Linked DNA regions of Homo sapiens. The protein of the gene in region 3 purifies or fractionates together with the protein of the main gene of each other region. This does not show direct contact. Each region holds a gene or a part of one and is shown on either strand. Other genes may lie near its edges. The genes, in order: PLXNA2, TMEM59L and PCDHB1.

What was found.
Region 1: the proteins of PCDHB1 (region 3) and PLXNA2 purify together in Homo sapiens (affinity purification with mass spectrometry; one large-scale study listed by BioGRID and IntAct). This does not show direct contact.
Region 2: the proteins of PCDHB1 (region 3) and TMEM59L purify together in Homo sapiens (affinity purification with mass spectrometry; one large-scale study listed by BioGRID and IntAct). This does not show direct contact.

The regions. Positions count from the first base shown.
Region 1 is NC_000001.11:208,216,885-208,220,538, forward strand, and holds part of PLXNA2 (plexin-A2 precursor), read right to left. Parts: intron 1,119-3,654; 5' UTR 1,084-1,118; coding exon of another isoform or gene 1,039-1,083; coding exon 1-1,038. UniProt on the Homo sapiens protein: Coreceptor for SEMA3A and SEMA6A. Necessary for signaling by SEMA6A and class 3 semaphorins and subsequent remodeling of the cytoskeleton. Plays a role in axon guidance, invasive growth and cell migration.
Region 2 is NC_000019.10:18,618,584-18,621,572, reverse strand, and holds the end of TMEM59L (transmembrane protein 59-like precursor), read right to left. Parts: intron 1,166-2,989; coding exon 1,037-1,165; 3' UTR 534-1,036; downstream 1-533. UniProt on the Homo sapiens protein: Modulates the O-glycosylation and complex N-glycosylation steps occurring during the Golgi maturation of APP. Inhibits APP transport to the cell surface and further shedding.
Region 3 is NC_000005.10:141,055,876-141,059,629, reverse strand, and holds the end of PCDHB1 (protocadherin beta-1 precursor), read right to left. Parts: 3' UTR 284-3,754; downstream 1-283. UniProt on the Homo sapiens protein: Potential calcium-dependent cell-adhesion protein. May be involved in the establishment and maintenance of specific neuronal connections in the brain.

The DNA.
Region 1 (3,654 bases), on a different chromosome or scaffold from region 3:
ATACTGCTTCTGCCCTTTGGAGAAGATGGCAAAGAGTACATCGTCCTGGCTGGTGATATTGAAGGCCTGGGCCAGTGAGTCCCCAGGCTTGGCCAGGTAAGCAGCCTGCAGGAGGCGGTATTCCACCCCGGCCCGGGTGCAGCCGAAGGGCAGGGACACGTATGAGTGGAACTTGGGGTCATCCTTGCAGAGCCGCACGATGCGTGAGGTGTAGAAGAGGTCTCCAGCGGAGTTGATGGCCACACCCTCAGGGGTCTCGGGCTGGACAGTGAGAAAGTAGACAAAGCCCCCACTAGCAAAGCCGTAGATGTAGAAGATGTCAAAGTGGGAGACCAGGGCCAGGGTGTCTGAAGGGATCTTGATGAGAGAGGAGACAAAATCGCTGTGTAGCTCATAGTCGAGCATGGCTGAGGACTCAGGGTCTCGGGGCAGCTTCCGGCTGGACAGGGTCGGGAAGTAATCCTGCTTCCCATCCACAGCCGTGCCGATGAAGAGCTTGCCATCCTCACCCTCAGAGCGCACAATCACCCCGTACATGGTGCCCGTCTTGTTGACACTGGACAGGTAGTGCTCCTTCTTGTGGGATGGCTCCACCAGGATGAAGAGGTCATCCAGCCGCAGCAGCTTGCAGACCCCCTGGTAGAGGCTCCCACAGGCCAGCAGGCGGTTCTCAGAGTAGTCAATGATGAGCAGCTTGTTGACATTGTTGGTGAGGGTGAGCACTTCGCTGCAGGGCTGCACGATGAGGGGCGGGTAACAAGACTTGTTGTCCTCTTCTGGCCCTGTCTTATGAGCCACCTGGATGGTCAGGTTGCCTGTCAGCTTATAGACCCGGTTGATGGCCCCCACATAGACGGCCCCCGTCCCTTGGTGGACGGTCAAGTGGTTGAAGGTCCAGTCACGATTCTCAGAGTGGAAGGTGCTGAACTGAGGCATGCCGGCTGCTGGGGGGGCCAGCAGCACCCAGACCACTGAGAGCAGGACCACAGAGCGGCTGTCCACCTCCAGGGCCCGGGGCCAGGGCCGCCTCTGTTCCATGCTGAGAGGGGCGGCGGTGAGGAGACGGCTCCTGTGTGTGCTCATCTGCTCCACCTTCCCCGGTTGGCCCTCACATGATTCTGCAAAACACAAGGCAGAGTGGTCAGACCAAAAATAATTTCCGGGAGGAGCAAAGAGGCTGGCCTGACCCAGGGTCCCCATCCTGGTTTAGCTCTGTGAGTCTCCTCCTTCTGCATTTTGGTTTTTCTATTTTTAACATACTTTCTCCCTCTTAGGAATGTTCAGGGAATCCTGTTATCTATTTTGGTCTCTAGCCTTTATGCTATAAAATACTTGCTTTTTTTAAAATTTTATTTTACAAAGCATCTCTATTTCTGGCCCCTTAAGCCATCGTTTTCATCTCCCAGAGAGGTTAAAAGGCTGTTGAAGTTCACCCAGCCAGTCAATTTGATATTAGGACTAAACCCAGTCTTCCCTATCCTACCGGCACGTCTTATCCCAGCCCAGTGGAAGTCGCTCCTGTTTTTTGAAAGCTTGTTAGGCAGGCCCTCCCCCAGGCTCTCCAGGTCAACTGCTCCCAGAGTCTGATATTGCACACAAAATTCCTTCCTATTTTAGACTTCCATCACCTCACTCCGCTGCATCTCTTCACTTTCTCATGCTCTGTTATCCACAGAGAGGCAAGGAGCTGGTCACCCTGAGTGAGAGTGCCCTGCTCTGCCCTCAGCCCTTTCTTCTCCAGCAAGAAGAACCCCTGATCACTAGCTGTTAGAACAGCTGTTAGAACTTGTTAGGAAAGGGAAAAATGTTGTAGCCAACAAGACTGGGATTCCCACATGTGCCATTCCGGAGCCGGAAAAGCCCTCGGGAGACAGGCAGATCTCTTGAGATTCCCCCATCCTTCTCAAGGTGGACGCCCAGCTGCTGCCAGGTAGCCAGGTCCTCGGGAAATTGCTTCAACCTCTGCCTCTCTGCAGGCAGAGCACATGGGAAGCCAGGACACACAGAGAACCAGTCTCCTTGCTAGGGGTTACTGGCTGGCTGAGTCCAGCTTCAGCCACCTGGGGCAGGGGTACCAGATTTGGGAGAATGTGGGGAGCAGCAAAGGGTGGTGAGGTGAGATTCAGTCTCATTTCAGGCACTGCTGGGGCCTCCTGACTGTTTCAGCATCCATGAAATCACCAGCGGGCCTCAGTGGGCCATGCTCGAAGCCCAGTCTCTAGCCCTGACTCCTTTACTCTTCCCCCTGCCTCCTGACTCCCAGGCTTTAAGGCTCCTCCACTTCCAGAGCCTTGGTGCTTATTCTTCCCTGTTCCAAGGAAGCTGCCCAGAGGGGCAAGGTGGGGCTCCTGAGGACAGCCTGTAGCCAGGGGCAGTCTGGGCCAGGGGCAGGAAGTCAGAGAGCAGAGCCTGGAGGTCAGAGAGCAGGACCTGGAGGTCAGAGAGCAGGGCCTGTTCCATCACTATCATGGTACTGTCCTGACTTATGGAGAGGGACAGTGGGAAGTGACTGCGGCACCAGGAGAAGGCAGCGAGCTGTCCGGCAGAGAAAGCTTTTCTCAGCTGGAAGATCATCCAGCAACCTTCTCAGGCAAGTCCAGACAGAACTCTGGGCACATAAGGTGGCAGGGATGGAAACACCCGAAGGATGGAGAGTTTGCTCCAAGGCAGCTTAGGAGAGGCCTTTCTCCCTCAACTCCCCATTCTGGCTGGATTGGGTTATAATTAGAACAGACACCACTTAGAGAATCCCCTAGAGTTTCTTTAGGAACGACCCTTCCTCTTGTTCAGTTCTGCATCCTCGGCCTGGCAGCCACCGTGGTGCCACAGTAGGTCCCACCTAACTCCCTCCTCCAACCCGACTCCCCCAGGGTGTTCGGGGTGACTCATGAGGCCCTGGGCTTCCTTGGAAAGAGGAAGGCAACACCGGCATGAGACTCAGGCTGACCTCAGCTACTCCGACACAGCCCTTCCGGCCCCAGGCGCACACCGGCAAAGCCTCCCAACAGACAGGGCTTTCAGTTTGGAAACCAGAGGTTATTTTTAGCTATGTCCTGAGGCCGGTAGCAGGACGTGAATTCCTGAAGAGGAGCTGTGGAAAGGAAATAACAGAATCCTTAAATTCTCCAGCTGGATGGGGAATTGCAAGAGGCCATTCTCTGCCCCTGTCGCTGGGAAGAAAATCTCCTTGGGTTCCAGGTGGAGAGTGGTTCCTCCTTGAGGAGCCGCGAGGGGAGGAAGGGGGTTCTGGTAGCAGAGATAACATGGAAGGACTTAGTATGCGGTTAAGATCAGCCACCTCACCTCCCTGCTTGGTATCCTCCCAAGACACAGTTTGAATAGTGAGTGGCTTTTGTTGTTGTTAGACAGAATCTGGGAACAAATTTGGGATTTGAGGCAAGTCAAGTCTCATGTCCCTTTCTGGTAGAATGGGAATAACTACAGTATGTACCTTTCAAGTTGTCATGACAGTAAATGAGACAATATAGAGACCAACCTCTTAGCATGGTTGCAGGCACACAGTGAGCACTTAACTTATGTTAGTTTTTGTTATTATTATTATTATTGAGACAGAGTCTTGCTCTGTCGCCCAGGCTGGAGTGCAGTGGTATGATCTCAGCTCATTGAGACCTCCGCCTCCCTGGTTCAAGCGAT
Region 2 (2,989 bases), on a different chromosome or scaffold from region 3:
ATGCTCTGTCACCCAGGCTGGAGTTCAGTGGTGCAATCATAGCTCACTGCAGCCTCCACCTCCCCGCCTCAAGCAATCCTCCCACCTCAGCCTCCCGAGTAGCTGGGACCACAGGCTCAAGCCACCACACCCAGTTAATTATATATATATATGTGTGTGTGTGTGTGTGTGTGTGTGTGTGTGTGTATTTTGTAGAGATGGGGCCTTGCTATGTTGCCCCAGGCCGGTCTGGAACTTCTGGGCTCCAGTGAATCTCCTGCCTCAGTCTCCTAAAGTGCTGGGATTACAGGCATGAGCTGCTGCGCCTGGCCTCGAGTCAGTTTTCCAGGGACATCTGTAGCTGGGAGTGTGACCTGGGTTAGACCAGAGGGAGTGTCCTTCTGAGAGGCAGCTACTTTCAGTGCCTGGTGCCACCTGGGTTTCCAGGGCTTTCCCATGTCAGAAAGATCCTGCTCGGCAGGGGTCATAGCCATGCGTGGGCCACACCCCAAGGGCAGACAGACAACCGAACAGAAGCAGGCTCAGCCTGAAACTCTTTTATATACATGGTTTATTCCTCCCCAGCCCCAGACAAGCCCCAGGCACGCTTTATAGGGGCATGGAGATGCCCACACCCTGTCTCTCAGAAGCTGGGTCTCTGGAGACCGGGATGGGGAGAAGGGGGAAGCCCTAGCAAGACGCAGCTCCCCCTCAGCCTCAGCGCCCCCCCCGCAGAGAGGGGACATAGAAGGAAAAAGGAAGGTGACACAGGACTGGGGTTCAAATACTCAGAAAGCCACACAATAGAAGACAAAAAGTAGCAAGCCCCCAAGAAAGCGGGGACAAGGAGGAACCAGTGCCCGATCCCGCCCTCTTCCCAGCTGGGGCACTGCGTCCCCAGGACTCCGTGGGGCAAGGGGTGGGACTGGGAGGAGAGGAAGGATTTGGGGGTGGAGGGGCTCAAGGCTGGACCCACCCTGCCCTTGGACTCCTGGGCTCAGGGCAAGTGAGGCCCGAGGGGCCCCCTGCAGTTGGCAGTGATGGGGCCAGTGGAGGCCTACAGCTTGGTCAGGTCCAGCTTCAGCTTGTAGGGTGGTAGGCTGTCCTCACAGGCGTGGGACGGCGGCGGGTACAGGGGCCAATCGGGCTCCATCATGAAGCCCTTGTGCTGCTCCAGGGTCAGAGGCTGCAGGAAGAGAGGGGAGGAGGGAAGTGGAGGGACGGGGAGAGGCCGAGCCCCCAACCCTGACTGTCTCCTTCCCACCTCTGATTGTTTTATTTTTTTTCTTTTTTTGAGAGAGTCTCTCTCTGTCACCCAGGCTGGAGTGCAGTGGCGCCATCTCAGCTCACTGCAACCTCCGCCTCCTAGGTTCAAGCGATTCTCCTTTCTCAGCCTCCCAAGTAGCTGGGACTACAGGTGCACGCCACCACGCCCAGCTAATTTTTGTATTATTAGTAGATATGGGGTTTCACTATGTTGGCTAGGCTGGTCTCGAACTCCTGAAGTGATCTGCCCACCTCAGCCTCCCAAAGTGCTGGAATTACAGGTGTGAGCCACCACACCTGGACTTTTGTGTGTGTGTGTGTGTGTGTGTGTGTGTGTGTGTGTGTGTGTGTGTGATGGGGTCTTCTCTGTTGTCCAGGCTGGAGTATAGTGGTGCCATCACAGCTCACTGCAGCTTCGAACTCTCAGGCTCAAGTGATCCTCCCACCTCAGCTTCCTAAGTAGCTGGGATCATAAACATGCACCTCCACGTCTAGCTAATTTTTTTTTTCTTTTTTTTTTTTTTGAGATGGAGTCTCGCTCTGTCACCCAGGCTGGAGTGCAGTGGCGCGATCTCGGCTCACTGCAAGCTCCTCCTCCTGGGTTCACGCCATTCTCCTGCCTCAGCCTCCCGAGTAGCTGGGACTACAGGCACCTGCCACCACGCCCAGCTAATTTTTTGTATTTTTAGTAGAGATGGGGTTTCACCTTGTTAGCCAGGATGGTCTCAATCTCTTGACCTCGTGATCCGCCCACCTCGGCCTCCCAAAGTGCTGGGATTACAGGCATGGGCCACCATGCCCAGCCACATCTAGCTAATTTTTAAATGATTTGTAGTGACAAGGTTTCACTATGTTGCCCAGGCTCTGGGCACCACAGAGGTGTCACCAACACACCTGGGCATGATAGAGGTGAGGCCAACACCACAGAAGTGTGGCCACCTCTGACTTCATGTCGCCCCAACTAAGAGTGGATTTTCTTCCCACCAATTCAAAGGGCAGTGAAGAAACTGGCCCAAGTCATGCAGCAAGTGTGAGGTCCTGGCTGGGTGAGGTGGCTCATGCCTGTAATCCCGGTATTCTGGGAGGGCAAGGCAGGTGGATCACTTGAGCCCAGGAGTTCAAGACCAGCCTGGGCAACATAGTCCCCATCTCTACAAAAAATACAAAAATTAGCGGGGCATGGTGGCACGTGACTGTGGTCCCAGCTACTCAGGAGGCTGAGGCAGGAGGATTGCTTGAGCCAGGGAGGCCGAGGCTGCAGTGAGCTGTGATCATGCCACTGCACTCCATCCTGGGTGAAAGAGTGAGATCCTGTCTCAAAAATATATATATAGGCCGGGCGCGGTGGGTCACGCCTGTAATCCCAGCACTTTGGGAGGCAGAGGCGGATGGATCACCTGAGGTCAGGAGTTCAAGACCAGCCTGGCCAACATGGTGAAACACCGTCTCTACTAAAAATACAAAAATTAGCTGGGTGTGGTGGCCCGCGCCCATAGTCCCAGCTACTTCGGAGGCTGAGGCAGGAGAATTGCTTGAACCCAGGAGGTGGAGGTTGCAGTGAGCCGAGATGGTGCCATTGCACTCCAGCCCAGGTGACAGAGCAAGACTCCATCTCAAAAAAAATATATATATATATATTATATATATATATATACACACACACACACACACACACACACACGTATATGTATATATATGTATATACATGAAAAAAGAAAAAAATGTCTGAGGTCCTGGCCTCCAT
Region 3 (3,754 bases):
CCCAAAGTGTTGGGATTACAGGTGTGAGCCACCATGCCCGGCCTGTTTCAGTGTTATATAAACACAACAAATACTTTAATAATGTTTTTTAAAAGTGTTACACATATTTGAAAATGAAGTCAGACTTTTGGTTGAAGAATGAATGTCCACTTAGTCACATACTTTGAAGATATTAAACTCTACAGAAAATAGCTATTTATATGGGATAATCATATGAATGAATTATGCTTCCAAGAATAAGACAAATTCATCCCTAAATGGAAAACAACAAAAAATGCACAAACATGATAAAGAAATTCTTTATTTTTAGGAGAATTACATAATATCAGACAGACCAATTCCATTTTTTGTATATCTGTAAGTCTAATTTCAGCATATAAGTCTATTTTTAAATAGTATCTCAGGTATATATAGCTTAAACTATATAAACATGTCTGCACAACAAATTTTAAAATTTTCAGTTTATATCTATTTTAAAATGTATGACTAATTTAAAATTATGTTAGTATAATTTTCATTTAAAGTTAAAACTTTATGCATGAACCTTAATGGGGTTACTTTATGATTGTTTAAAATAATCTAACATGTAGAGTTACAAAGAAATACTAATTTTGATAAAAATGTATTCTATATGGATAATTCCAGTCTTAAAAATCTGCTCTTCATCTCAGATAAAAGAGTTTGCTGAACAACAAAGTAAATGATAGGATTAGTTTGTAACCCAAATAATAGAGGAGATATCCAGGTATCCTTATGTAAAGAAATAACTAACTAAATAAGTGGGGGGGAAAGTAACAAGTTTTCCTTCCAGAAGAATTTTAATTAATGTAAAAGGAAATAGAGAAATAGAAAATCACCATTAGAATGCCACAATATTAATTGCCACAGGAAATATCTAGCAATGGATACTAAAATTGGTTTAAGCAGAAACATCATATTTGCATAGTTTCAAAGCATATCCCCCAAGTGTTTATTAATTACAAAGAGAAAAAAGTAACTTTATAGTAGAGAAACGTGGCAGACATTATGTTAACCAAGCGATCAAAATTAACATCACCTTAACATTACTTAAAAATGGCTAACATACTTAAAAATGGCTAACATGGTACATTTTATAAGTTCTTTACCACAATAAAAGAAAAAAGATTAATATCACCAGTAGTGTGACATTGGCATCACATACCTGCTGACGTGATGCACTGAAAAGGATACAATATCATTTCTGCAGTATTTTTCCCAATAATGCATTACCTCAGTTTAATAATGAGAAAACAAAGAATCCCAAACTGAGGGGCATTCTACAAATAACTGGCTAGTACTCTTCAAAAATCTCAAGTCATGATAGACAAGGTAAGAGTAAGGAACTGTCACAGGTGGTAGAGACTAAGGAGCCATAACAAATGCTTTGCAGGATCCTGGATTGGATCCTTGAATAGAAAAAGGACATTGGGGGAAAACTGTTAAATTTGAATAAGATCTGTAGTTTACTTCATAGAATTATACCAAGGTTAATTTCTTAATTTTGATAACTACTATGGTTATATAAGATGTTAGCATTCCGGGAAGTTAGGTGAAGGATATACAGGAACTATCTATAGTATTTTTGCAATTTTATGAGTCTAGAATTATTTCCTAATAAAAAGCCTTTTTGTACAAGACACTTTTCAAGGTTCTTAGGTTATAGCTTTGAATACATAGAAATAGTTATAATATCACTTGACACTTTGGAGAGAGTAATTGCCCTAATTATTTCCATTCTTTGTCTTAATTTGCTGATAGAGACCTGGACTTAATCTCAGCTGGTGTACAGAGTTCTCTCCAAAAACAAGTGGCCTACTTCACATTCAGTGAATTGATATATTCTTATTTTAAGTTATCAGGTAGGATTGGAATTTTCTTGGGAACTTGAAGTCTGAATAAAATTAGAGTGACAAAATTTTCACCTAAGGCAAAAATAAGAAAAATGGTGGCAAAATAATTTTTTATTAAATCGATACATTTTTTAAATTTAAAGGATGGTTTCTTTTATGAGATTGTTATCTTACCTTTTTTTTTCTTTTTTCTTTTTTTCTTTTTTTTTTTTTTTTTTGAGACAGAGTCTTGCTTTGTCGCCAGGCTGGAGTGCAGTGGCATGATCTCAGCTCACTGCAACCTCCACCTCCTGGGTGCAAGCAATTCTCCTGCCTCAGCCTCCCAAGTAGCTGGGACTACAGGCACATACCACCACACCCAGCTAATTTTTGTATTTTTAATAGAGACATGGTTTCACCATGTTGGCCAGGATGGTCTCCATCTCTTGACCTTGTGATCCATCTGCCTCAGCCTCCCAAAGTACTGGTATTACAGGTGTGAGCCACCATGCCCAGCCTATCTTAACCATTTTTATATTAAAATGCCATTTCGTTTATGGAATAATGGTGGCGTGAAGTGGTAGATTTTATCTCATTTAATGTGAAAAAATAAAAAGTTGACAAATCTACATCTTCTGTCCATTGTGTATGTGTGTATATATGTATTCATGAATTTCACTGCTATTTGAATATCAAAGTCTTAAAATCATGAATCTACACCATTTTCTTTTCCTATCCTTGACATTAAGCCAGTTTCCATTGATTATGTTCACATCATTAAGTGTAATGAAACACAGTTAATACAGTAGCTTTTACTTAAGCATGTTTTATTAACTAATTATTGCTTACCCATAAAAATTAATTCTAGGCTGGGCATGGTGCTGTAATCCTAGCACTTTGGGAGGCCAAGGCGGGTGGATCACCTGAGATCAGGAGCTCGAGACCAGCCTGGCCAACATAGCGAAATGCCAACATGGCGAAGCCCCGTCTCTACTAAAAACACAAAATTTAGCTGGGCGTGGTAATGTATACCTGTAGTCCCAGCTACTCAGGAGGCTGAGGCAGGAAGATCACTTGAACCCAGGAGACGGAGTTTGCAGTGAGCCGAGATCATGCCACTGTACTCCAGCCTGGGTGACAGAGCAAGACTTTGTCTCCAAAAAATAAATAAATAAATAAAAATTCTATCTCCTTTTTCATTTAAAGGAAATAGAAATTTCAGCATGCCTTCACCAATTGGAACACAAATACACTGGAACACTTATTCTATGTTTTGTGCAAGAAAACCTTTACTCTAAATCGGAATCATAACTCAATGTATGTAAAATATTTAATATTAAAAATAAAAGCAATTCATTGATATAGTGCATTTGCTTCATCTGTTCTTTAACATTTTAACATTGAAGGCAGCCATAGGTTACACCAGTTCTGCCCTAAGCATCTCTAACATCTAAAAAATAACAGCACTAAATTTTAGTGTATTCCTGGCCAACAGGTAAACAGCCAGGTGGTGCCATTAGGTATCAGTCATTAAGTCCAAGAATGAAGTTTGTATCAATAAACATGATTTGGTATATTTAAGAAGTATTTTAAAAGATAATGCTCTACCCTTAAAATACCAAGAGGATGTATTCTAGTGAGTCTGAATTTACACACATTTTTATAAAATAAGGAATATAATTAAAGCCTCATTAAAGCACACTTTTTTTTTTTTTGAGATGAGGTTTCACTCTTTTGCCCAGGCTGGAGTGCAGAAGTGCAATCATAGCTTACTGCACCCCTGAACTCCTGGGCTTGAGCAATCCTCCTCCTTCAGACTCCTGAGTAGCTGGGACTACAGGTATGAGCCACCATGCCCTTCTCTAAAGCAAACTTTTGACTTTCAAGGCACAGTTAGCAGTGTT